3 linked regions of the Homo sapiens genome follow. The protein of the gene in region 3 purifies or fractionates together with the protein of the main gene of each other region. This does not show direct contact. Each region holds a gene or a part of one and is shown on either strand. Other genes may lie near its edges.

Region 1 (3,654 bases), on a different chromosome or scaffold from region 3:
TTCCCTTTAAAAACTCCATTCATTCTTTAGGTTCATGTCAAAAGCTACCTTTTCCATAAAATCTTCATAGAGCCCCACATATGATCTCCATGCTACTTTATTAGTGTTTCATGTAATATAGCTTATTCTCTTTTTAAATATAGCTATTTCTGTATTTATTGTAATAATAATAACAGTAACAGCAGACACAAGAGTTTTGATTCAAAGCTTACTGTATGCTCTAAATTAACATGCATTATTTCCATTTTATAGATGAGGAAACTGAGGCTTTGACAGATTAACTTATTTGCCCAGGGTCAAGCCATATCCATGTATGCCTGATTCTAAAGAATTGAGTGAACTCTTAGCTACAACACTGCTTTTAGACACTGGTGACAAAATCATTCTTAAAGGTTATACAGTCTTCTTTACTTCTGAATTTCTATAATGTGTAGAACAGTAGCTTTACAATAGCAGAAATTCAATAAATAATTTATTGAACTAAACTACAGTTAGAAAGTCCAAGTGTTATTACAATTCATTCTAATAGGGTATCCAAATACTTCCATTCTAACAGAATATCACATATTCCTAAAAGTTTACACTAATTTGTACCATTAATTAAGGATTTATGATTAAACATTTTAATGCTATTATTAAACTAATAAACAGTGAAATTAAGAGAAAATAGATTATCTATTAAAAATATGTATTTTCAATCCTTCAGTCTGTTTTATCTATTGAAGAAAAAAGTGTATGTTTCAATCATGAAAGGAAGGTATTTCATATCTAAAGGGCAGCAAACCTGGTTTTTGGATTGTTGCATCTTATCTCTGTGTTGATGTGCTTCTCTGTTTGATGACAGAGCAGGATCTTGCTGAACTGCACCCACTGGAGTAGGCTACAATACAATAACAATTGGTATCAATACATTCCATTTTAAAATTCTTATTTAAAATCATTTAGCTGCTTAAAAGAATTAAGGAAAAAAACAAAAGACTGTTAAATAAACTAAGGCTTTAAGTAAAGGCATCATTATCAAAATATGTTGTTAAAGCTAAGAAGGTAAAGCAAAAAGAATATACCTACTTTTTAAAGTGTTTTTAAAATATTCAAATTCTTTATAAAGTACTTATTTTTACATCTACAGAACACTTAATGCTGCCATTACTTTTAGGCTACATTTTCATATCAACATGATAAAAATGTATATGTTTATGCCTCTCATTTCCAAAGCAAATGTATACATAGAATAAACTTTTAAGAAAATTAAAAGAATAAAAAAACTAATAAAATTACTTATTTCCAATATTTTGACTTGAAGAGACTCATACAAATTTTAATTTTCATCAAGGGATTGAAGTATTAAATTAATCATGAGAATATTACACAAAAAAGAGTATATTTGACATTAAGAACTAAATCAGGATGAAAAGTTAAAAGTAACTCTTCATGCTAAAAGGCAAAGAATCCAGATGTAGGGCTTCTGAAAAACTCAAAGAACACTAGTACGGCACTACCTGCAGAAATGTCCCTTAAAAAACAATAAAATGAATCCTTTAAAACAACTATTTGTTCTCAACTCTTTTCAATTGAAGATATTGTACTATTAAAAAGGCAACAGATACTGTAAGTAATATATTATTATATAGAATACTCACCAACTGTTTACCAATCCAGTCATATTCATAATCAAACATATATCCTTTTCGATCAAACAAGTCAGTAAAAAGCTTTCTTAAGTAGTCATAGTCTGGTTTTTCAAAAAAATCTAGCCTTCTTACATAACGAAGATATGTTGCCATTTCTTCTAGAAATAATATAAAAATTATTTGGACTATACTTTTCTTTAATACTCAGTAATAAAATTAAGTATCTAAAAGCACATTGTATTATATAAAAACACTTGAAAAGTAACAAAATTACATTGCAATTTAAATTTTTCTGAGTTTAATTACAACAAAATAAAAAAGAGGAAAAGAAGGAAGGGAATAGAGACACAAGAAAAATGGGAGGTTTAGTTTAACAACCACTATTTTTGCTTCATTTCATTAGGAAAAGCTAAAATTTTCATTTTTATAAGATTATTTTTAATATTTGGTAGTATGAGAAGTTGAATAAGCAGTTTAATAATGCATGATTAATCACAAAGCATCATATTCAGTTTATAAATTTAAAATTTTATTTAAAATACCGGTGAGAACTGATTTATATGAAAGCATCTGTATTGGCTTGCTGGATTTCCTTTAGAATCAGTGACATAAACCAACTAACTAATAGAGAATTCAAATTCCTAACCTTGGCTTTGAGCAGTATTCTAACCAATTAAGCTAACAAAGGAAAGCTAAAACAAATCTCAAAAACATAACACAAGAGGACAGTGTAAGTCTTCTCTTAATTTCTGGTCATATATTTAACAATTATTTGGCGATATACAAATCTCTGCATGCTATTATAATTCCAAAATGTATTAGATACATGTATCTAATACATGCAAAAACAAACAAACAGACAAACAAATATATAAATATAAAACAATGGGCAAAATGGTGAGCAATTAGTAAAGCAGGGCATTTCACCATCAGGGCACAGAAAATCACTACAGTAAGAGATGGTAAGTTACACCTAGCATTCACAGGCAGCCCCAGCCAACAGGAAAAAGATCACACCCAGCACAATGAGGCAACAAAAGTGGTGTGCAGTGACCTTCTTTAGGTGGTGACTCTCCCACTATTCCACTTTCTAGCTAAATACCTGGCTAATTTGATTTGGCAACCCCATTTTTCCCACCTTTATATAGGCTTCCTTAATGACAACTACCCTATCTGCCTACACTAAACTGCTAGTACTATTAACCGACATTTTAAAAAATCTACTTCTAGATATTATAGCAAGAAAGGAAAATATATAATTAAAGTTTGCTGTCAATGAATAATATAAACAAGCTTGAGAAAGAGCTACTTTTGTTATGTTGATAATATTATTATTACATTAATAACGCCAGCATTATACAGGAGAACTACGGAATACTAAAGTGAGATAGGAATTCCGTATTTTATCTTCAAATTTAGCTCTCTTTTCACTTAATGTGGCTGCACAAATAAATCACAGTCATTATCTTAATATACTAACAAGTTATTCTTATTCCTTAATTGATGTAGAAATCTTAAGTAAATTTTTTTTGGCTTAATTTGAGTTGCCATAAATCTACTTGAAAGCAAAATTATTTTCATAAATGCATACAGCTCCCCAATATAAAATTAGCCCCAAACTAGTGAGGTCAGTAAGGTTTTACTGGCCTTACTTAATTTAAGTTTAATTTGAAAACTAAACCAAATCATACTTCACATACCTCCTTTGAACTTGACATTGAGACCCAAATGACTAACACTGAATACCAAAACTTTGTAACTGGCATTTCTTAGCAAAAATTTTAACTCATTAAAAGTATATCACTAAAGAAAATATTACTTCAGCTGGTAATGATCAACACTATTAACAGACAGGATTTTCTTCTATTAATACCATTTGCAAAGCAAATACACAAAGTGTCCCTGTGGGTTCGGCATCAAATGCTGACAACCTTTAAATCATATTTTTAGCTCTTTTTTTTTTAAGCATAGAAAAAAATATGTATAAACTTAAGCAATAAAAATTAGCATTTCTAGTTTTCTG
Region 2 (3,654 bases), on a different chromosome or scaffold from region 3:
CTCATTTTTTTTCTCCTTATTTTTATATTCAGTTTTTCAACTAAACACCTTTACCCAGAGATTGTTTAAAATATGAAAATTTGTCATTAACTACTTGGTAAGTGAAATTAAAAACCCAGTAAGGCAGCTTAAGCTGAATGAGGTTTTATGTCTAATTGGCATGTGACGTAAATTATATACATTATGTTTAGGATAGTTAAAAAGGCTTACCGTGGCTAGTTTTTATAAGGAAATAATTTAAGACATTCTAGAATTCTGCAAATTAAATTATATATGTATGCATGTATATACTTTTTGAGACAGAGTCTCTCTCTGTCACACAGACTGGAGTGCAGTGGTACGATCATGGCTTACTACAGCCTTGACTTCCCAGGCTCAAGCAATCCTCACATCTCAGCCTCTTAAGTATCTGGGACTATAGGTGCATGCCACCGTGCCGATGAAACTGTGTATTTAAATGGAACATGGTAGGCAGTTAAGTACTTGAGGAAATTGAAATTTGTCAACAAGGGATCTTAGTTATCTGTATTACGTATTAAAAGGGCTCTAGGGAAGCGGTTGAGAGGTTAAAAAAAAAAAAAAAACACCCTGAAAAATGTGATCTCCTTGCCGTGTGGTCTAAAAAACAAAAAACTTAGTAATTAAAAATTTTAAACTTAGATATTAGTTTTCATGGTTTGTGTTAACCTTACTATGGGAATTAAAATTTATGAACAGGAGATTTCATTTGGTTCATTAATTATTGAATATATCACCAGGGAAACTCTTTGGGGGGAAAAAAATGAAAAAACCACAGACTCCTCCTGGCTGTAAGACATAAAGAAAATAGAGATAGGTTAGTATGTAAATTTCATTCATGTTTATGTGTTGACTCACCTTTTAATGCAAAAAAATCTTTGCAAAGGTTTTAGAAATGATGAGACAGATTATGAGAGGATGCTGAAGAATCGGGGGGATTGTGTGTTCCCTTAAGGCATTGAAGAGCAGTCTTGGTATATGTGATAGAGAGTGTTGTAGGATAAAAACGTGAATAGGAAAATCAGCAGTAGAACAAAACTAAATGGGACTAAATGTAACTAAAAATGAATATTCTATTCGAACTGCATGGTAGAGATAAGACCCTTTGAATGATAGATTCCGAGAACATTAGTGGTGGGGTAGAGAATTGGGGATGGGATAGAATCCCAAATAACTTCAGTTATTAATTAGCTGCTAATCTAAACCTGAGACAGTAATTGTATAGTATTTTTGTAAATGAAGTGTCATCCTGAGGTAGCAGAGATGGATATCTGCTCATCTCAGAACAGTATCACCATAAGTACACTTGCTTGTTAACTAAAACCTCTAAAATTTTATCTTATAGGTAGGCATTATGGCTTTGTTAAGAAAAATGAAATCTACAGTGAAAGACACTGGATGCTGTATTCTATTTCTACTTATTGGTAACTTTAAGATATTTTACCTGTTTTTTTGAGACGTCTCACTCAGTCACCCAGGCTGGAGTACAGTGGTGAGATCTCGGCTCACTGCAACCTCTTTCTCCCAGGCTCAAAAGATTCTCATGCCTCAGCCTCGCAAGTAGCTGGCATTACAGGCATGCACCACCACACCTGGCTAATTTTTGTATTTTTAGTAGAGATGGGGTTTCACCATGTTGGCCAGGCTGGTCTCGAACTCCTGACCTCAGGTGATCCAACTGCCTCAGCCTCTCAAAGTGCTGGGATTACAGGCATGAGCCACTGTGCCCAGCCATAAGATATTTTACTTTTATTAAAGCTGTGAACATAAGAAATTGTAGCTACTTTTCCGTGACTATGGTAATTGCACATGTTAACATTTTGTCCTATGAAGCGGAGTTAGCAAATAAGCTAGATGGTAATGCTTGTGAGGCACTCATAAACATTTGTTGGATGAAATTCTGATATCCCCAGTTGTCATATTCTAACCCTTTAATGGTGGGATTGATTTTTAAAATTTTTGTATGTAACCAAAAATAATATATAACCAAGTCTGGTAAATTTAAAGGGTTGTTTCTGGTAAAACAAAAGCAAGTTATGTGACTTTAAGTGATACAAAACTGCCGGGTATGGTGGATCACACCTTTCATCCCAGCTACTCAGGAGGCTGAGATGGGAAGACAGTCTGAGCTCAGGATGTCAAGACAGGCCTAGGCAACATAGTAAGGACCCCACCTCTAAAATTTTTTTTTTTTAATTAGCTTGGCATGGTGGTGCATACCTGTAGTTCCAGCAACTTGGTAGGCTGAGGTCGGAGATCGTTTGAGCCACTGGGTTCAAGGCTGCAGTGGTGAGCAAGGATGGCAGTGCCACTGTGCTTTAACCTGGGCGACAGAACAAGACCCCATCTCTTAAAAAAAAAAGTGACATAGGACTGTGGCTTGGTAACACAGAGATAACTACATGTGGTCGTATAAAAAAAAATCCAAGAGATAATAATGCTTGAGTGGGTCATGTAAGAAAAGACAGGCTAAGTGTATGATTTTAAATTTACATAATCATAATTTATGTTTCTAATGTTTAGTTCACAAAATCTTAGAGTACTAAAACCAAGAGGCTCCTCTTAGAGAAGGTAGTTTTAGGACTAAGTAAAAGGAAATGCCCTGCTATTTTACAGAGCTGACGTAAATTGACAGAACTTGTTACTTTTAAGAAGTAGTACAGGTGAAAATATAAGCATACTAAAAATGGGTTCAATGAATTCATGGACAATAGTTTCAAAACGTATTGTGTAAAATTTAAGAGAAATCCTTAGTATGTTGAGTTCAGCCACATTCTCATAAACATTTGGTTTCAATGACGTAATACTTTAAATACAAGTTCTGTCATAGCATTTACACTGTAATATGATTATAGTGATGAGCCCCATAACGATATTTCAGTCGGCCGGGCTTGGTGGCTCACGCCTGTAATCCCAGCACTTTGGGAGGCCGAGACATGTGGATCACCTGAGGTCAGGAGTTTGAGATCAGCCTGACCAACATGGTGAAACCCTGTCTTTACTAAAATACAAAAATTAGCCAGGCGTGGTGGCGGGCACCTGTAATCTCAGCTACTCGGAAGGCTGAGGCAGGAGAATTGCTTGAACCCAGGAGGCGGAGTTTGCAGTGAGCCGAGATCGTGTGCCACTGCACTCCAGCCTGGGCAACAAGAGTGAAACTCCGTCTCAAAAAAATGATGTTTCAGTCAGTGAGTTGACTGTATATAGGGTGATGGTCCCAATTTTTTTTTTTTTTTTTGAGATGGAGTCTCACTCTATCACCCAGTCTGGAGTGCAGTAGTGTGATTTTGGCTCACTGCAACCTCTGCCTCCCGGGTTCAAACGATTCTCCTGCCTCAGTCTCCCAAGTAGCTGGGATTACAGGCGCCGGCCACCCAGCCTGGCTAATTTTTGTTTGTTTGTTTGTTTTTGTATTTTTAGTAAACACAGGGTTTCACCATGTTGGCCAGGCTGGTCTTGAACTCCTGACCTCAGGTGGTCCACCTGCCTTGGCCTCCAAAATTGCTAGAATTACAGGCATGAGCCACCATGCCTGGCTTTACCATGTTTTTACTGTCTTTTCTATATTTAGATATGTTTAGATACACAAATATTTACCATGGTGTTAAAATTGCCTGCAGTGTTGAGTATGCAGTA
Region 3 (3,654 bases):
TGCAATGGTATGATCTCAGCTCACTGCAACCTCCACCTCCCGGTTCAAGCGATTCTCTTGCCTCAGCCTCCCCAGTAGCTGGGATTACAGGCATGCGCCATCACGCCCAACTACTTTTGTATTTTTAGTAGAGACGGGGTTTCTCCATGTTGGTCAGGGTGGTCTCGAACTCCCAACATCAGGTGATTCACCCACCTCAGCCTCCCAAAGCGCTGGGATTACAGGCATGAGCCACTGTGCCTGGTCTAGAAATCTGTATTTTTACATAAAATCTTTCTATTTAAAATAATAGCCCTTCTGCTCTGGTCCTTGGGCCCTTCCTCCAAAAAATAAAAAGAGTATAATAAAAAATAAAATGTGGGCAATCTATTCAAAATTCCCCCCATGCCAAATGTTTTTGATTAAACTGCACAAGTTAAACAAATTATTATCTGCAACCTGTATGCAGTCCAGCTTATGAGAAAGATTTGAGCCTCCCCCACAGCACGGGGCTTCAGGGGCCAGATATTTTTGTTTTGTTTTTAAGACAGGGTTGGCTGGGCATGGTGACTCACACCTGTAATCCTACCATTTTGGGAGGTCGAGTCAGTAGGATCGCTTGAGTTCAGGAGTTCGAGACCAGCCTGGGCAACATGGCGAAACTCCATCTCTACAAAAAAATACAAAAATTAGCCAGGTGTGGTCTGCACACTTGTGGTCCCAGCTACTCAAGAGGCTGAGGTAGGAGGATCGCCTGAGCCCATGAGGCCAAGGCTGCAGTGAGCCATGGTCACGCCACTGCATTCCAGCCTGAGTGACAGAGCAAGACCCTGTTGAAAACAACAACAACAACAAAAAAAAAAAAAAAGAAAAAAAGAAAAAGCCAGGGTCTTGCTAGAGTGCAGTGGCACAATCAAGGTTCAATGCAGCCTCCGACTCCTGAGCTCATGTGAGTCTCCCACTTCAGCCTCCTAAGTAGCTGGGACCACAGGTGTGCCACCATGCCGTTTATTTTTGAATTTTTTGTAGAGATGGGGGTGTCTCCCTATATTGCCCAGGCTGGTCTTGAACTCCTGGCCTCAAACAGTCCTCCCACCTGGACTCCCAAAGTGCTGGGATTACAGGCATGTGTGAATACGCTTGGCCAGGGGCCAGACTGACACAGACTGTCCCTCTGTCCTTAGGGCACCCCAGGCAGAGTGGGCCCCTCCCTCCTTCATGGGAACACCTCAAGATGGTTTCCAGAAAGCCAGTATTGTGGGGCTTAAACTTAGATGAGAAGATAAAGAGCTCATCTCTGCTGCTCTCTCCCCATCCTGCACCACCAGCTCACACCTCCAGGCCTGTCCTGCCAGCTCCTTTCTCCTCCTGGAGTCCGTAGGAGCAGCTCCCGTACCTTCACTGCTTTGCTCAAAAGTCACCTTCTCATGAGGCCCACCCAGACCTTCCTATTCAAAAGAGGAAGTGGAGCTGCAGCCTCTCCAACAATGCTCGCTGCCCTCCCCACTCTGCGTCCTCCACGAGCCCTCCCCTTCTCACGCACTCTGTAACCCACCCAGAGAACCTCACACACAAGCCAACGGGCTCCTGAGGCTCCCAGCAGCCAGAGAGGTGGGAACAGATACTCCCTCACAGCCCTCAGAAGGAACCAGCCCTGCCGAGGCCTTGACCTTGGACCCTGAACTCCGGAACTGTGGGGGAATGTGTCTTGGTTGTTTAAGCTCCAGATTCTGGAGGAATCAGGTTGGATGATGGGGGCAGGGAAGGGAAGTTATCCCAGTTCAGAATAGAATGTGAACTCTCAGGGGCCCTGGGGTTGGAGGGAAGCATTTGGGAGGAACCTACATTGTCCTTGAGGCACTGGGTGGGGGGTTCTGGCTGGGTACTGTCTTCTTTTAGGTTAATGCTGGGTCCCAAAAGGCCACAACTGCTGCAGAGGGCTTGTCTGCACACAACGTTCCAGCCAGCTGACCACTTCCCCCAGACCCAGGGTTCACCTCTTTCTCAGCCCTCCCTCTTGCCTGTTCCCTCACCCCCCTGACACCCACATAGGGGTGCCTGGTCAGCATCCTGCATTCACTGTTTCCTGTGACCTGGGCCTAATCGAATTCCCCGGCCTCATTCCAGATTAGCTCACTTCTGTGCCTGGGGCTCCCTAGGTCAGCCATCCGTGAGGCATGTCCAGGAAGCCTGGGCCCGGGGTCCTTGACCTCCCCTCCCCATGATGGGTTTCCAGGGAGGCAAGATAAAGGTTCAGCCAAGATGATCACGAAGACCCAACTGGTCCCAAACTGGCGACCCGAGGCCAAAACAGCCCACAGGTGCCGCTCCTTAGACCCTCGGGGGATGCTGTCCATTTCTGGACTCAAGACAACTAAAAATACTCACCTCAGCAGATCAACTGCAGAGCTGAGCAACTGGTAATTCTGGCCACACGAGACTGAATTCCCACTTGATTAGCACCGGCCCAGCTGCCTACCAGGGTGGGCTGCCTCCAGCTCCAAAGTCCCTACACAGCCCATAGCCTCCCTCCCGGCCTGCACCCTCAACTCCACAACACGCCCCCACCCCCGCCCCCAGGTGCTGGAGTTTCTGACCCCCTGCCTCACTCAGCACTTTATAAAGGGAAGGCACATGCCCACCTCACCTGGTCCAATGAGCGCAAAAAACCCAAGACCTTGTTTGTCACCTGAGCAAACAAGGGGAGTCTAAAAGGGAAGGGACTGTCCCAAGATCACTGAGCTGGCAGTGTCAGGAAGCAAAGTTGTGTTGCCCAGCTTAGCACATTTTCCATCCGACGACACCATCTCCCTCCAGCTGTTCCCTCACCCTGGGAGAGCTGCTTCCTGGACCACTGCTCTGAAGCAGGCCCCGCCATGAGTCTCTTCTAGAGCACCATGTATTTCCTTCATTACATCTAGAGAATGTCTAACCACTCATGTGCCTGTTCACCTGTGTATCATCTGCTTCTCTTCCAAGAATCTAGGCCTCTGCCCAGACTCTTCCTTACTCAACTCCAGGGGGCGCCATTTGTGCACAGCAGCCCCTGGAGTTGTGGTGCGGGAGGTCTGGCCCCACTGAGAGAGGGACAGTCGGCTCTTGCTCACTGCAGCCTCACTGAGCCGGGCCTGTAGCAGGCCCTTACAAAAGATTTCCTGGGCCAGGCACAGTAGCTCACACCTGTAGTCCCAGCTACTCAGGAGGCTGAGGTGGGACGATCTCTGGAGCCCGGGAGGTGGAGGCTGCAGTGAGCCATGATGGTGCCACCGCACTCCAGCCTAGGTGACAGAGCGAGACCTTGTCTCATAAGAAAAAAGAACGAAAGAAAAAAAATTCCTGGGTAAAAAGCAAAGTACACAAATCGCTTGTGCCAGAAGCTGCTCTGAAACCAAGACATACCAGCTCCACCTCTCCATTGTGAAAAGCCTCTCCCAAGTCACTCAGCCCCTGGGACGTCCTCACAGCCTGCCTCTGGCGCTGGGCACCCACCCCAGATCCAGCAGAGCATGGCCGTGACATTCACCAACATTTAGTCCAAGACACCTGACCAAACTCTCCCAGAGCGTGGCTTTCTGGGATGTGCAGTAACTGTATGGCCTCACCCGGGTTGCTTGGCAATGCTGAGCCTTGGTTTCTCCTGCTCTAAATGGGATGAGGGTGAGGCAGGAGGGGGAT

Evidence for each region.
Region 1: the proteins of SERHL2 (region 3) and CSNK1G3 purify together in Homo sapiens (affinity purification with mass spectrometry; 2 studies listed by BioGRID and IntAct, with this or other methods). This does not show direct contact.
Region 2: the proteins of SERHL2 (region 3) and GNB4 purify together in Homo sapiens (affinity purification with mass spectrometry; one large-scale study listed by BioGRID and IntAct). This does not show direct contact.

What each region holds. Positions count from the first base shown.
Region 1 is NC_000005.10:123,588,545-123,592,198, reverse strand, and holds part of CSNK1G3 (casein kinase I isoform gamma-3), read right to left. Parts: intron 1,790-3,654; coding exon 1,641-1,789; intron 881-1,640; coding exon 785-880; intron 1-784. UniProt on the Homo sapiens protein: Serine/threonine-protein kinase. Casein kinases are operationally defined by their preferential utilization of acidic proteins such as caseins as substrates. It can phosphorylate a large number of proteins. Participates in Wnt signaling.
Region 2 is NC_000003.12:179,441,354-179,445,007, reverse strand, and holds part of GNB4 (guanine nucleotide-binding protein subunit beta-4), read left to right. Parts: intron 1-3,625; exon of another isoform or gene 3,626-3,654. UniProt on the Homo sapiens protein: Guanine nucleotide-binding proteins (G proteins) are involved as a modulator or transducer in various transmembrane signaling systems.
Region 3 is NC_000022.11:42,560,384-42,564,037, reverse strand, and holds part of SERHL2 (serine hydrolase-like protein 2), read right to left. Parts: intron 650-3,654; coding exon of another isoform or gene 569-649; intron 1-568. UniProt on the Homo sapiens protein: Probable serine hydrolase. May be related to cell muscle hypertrophy.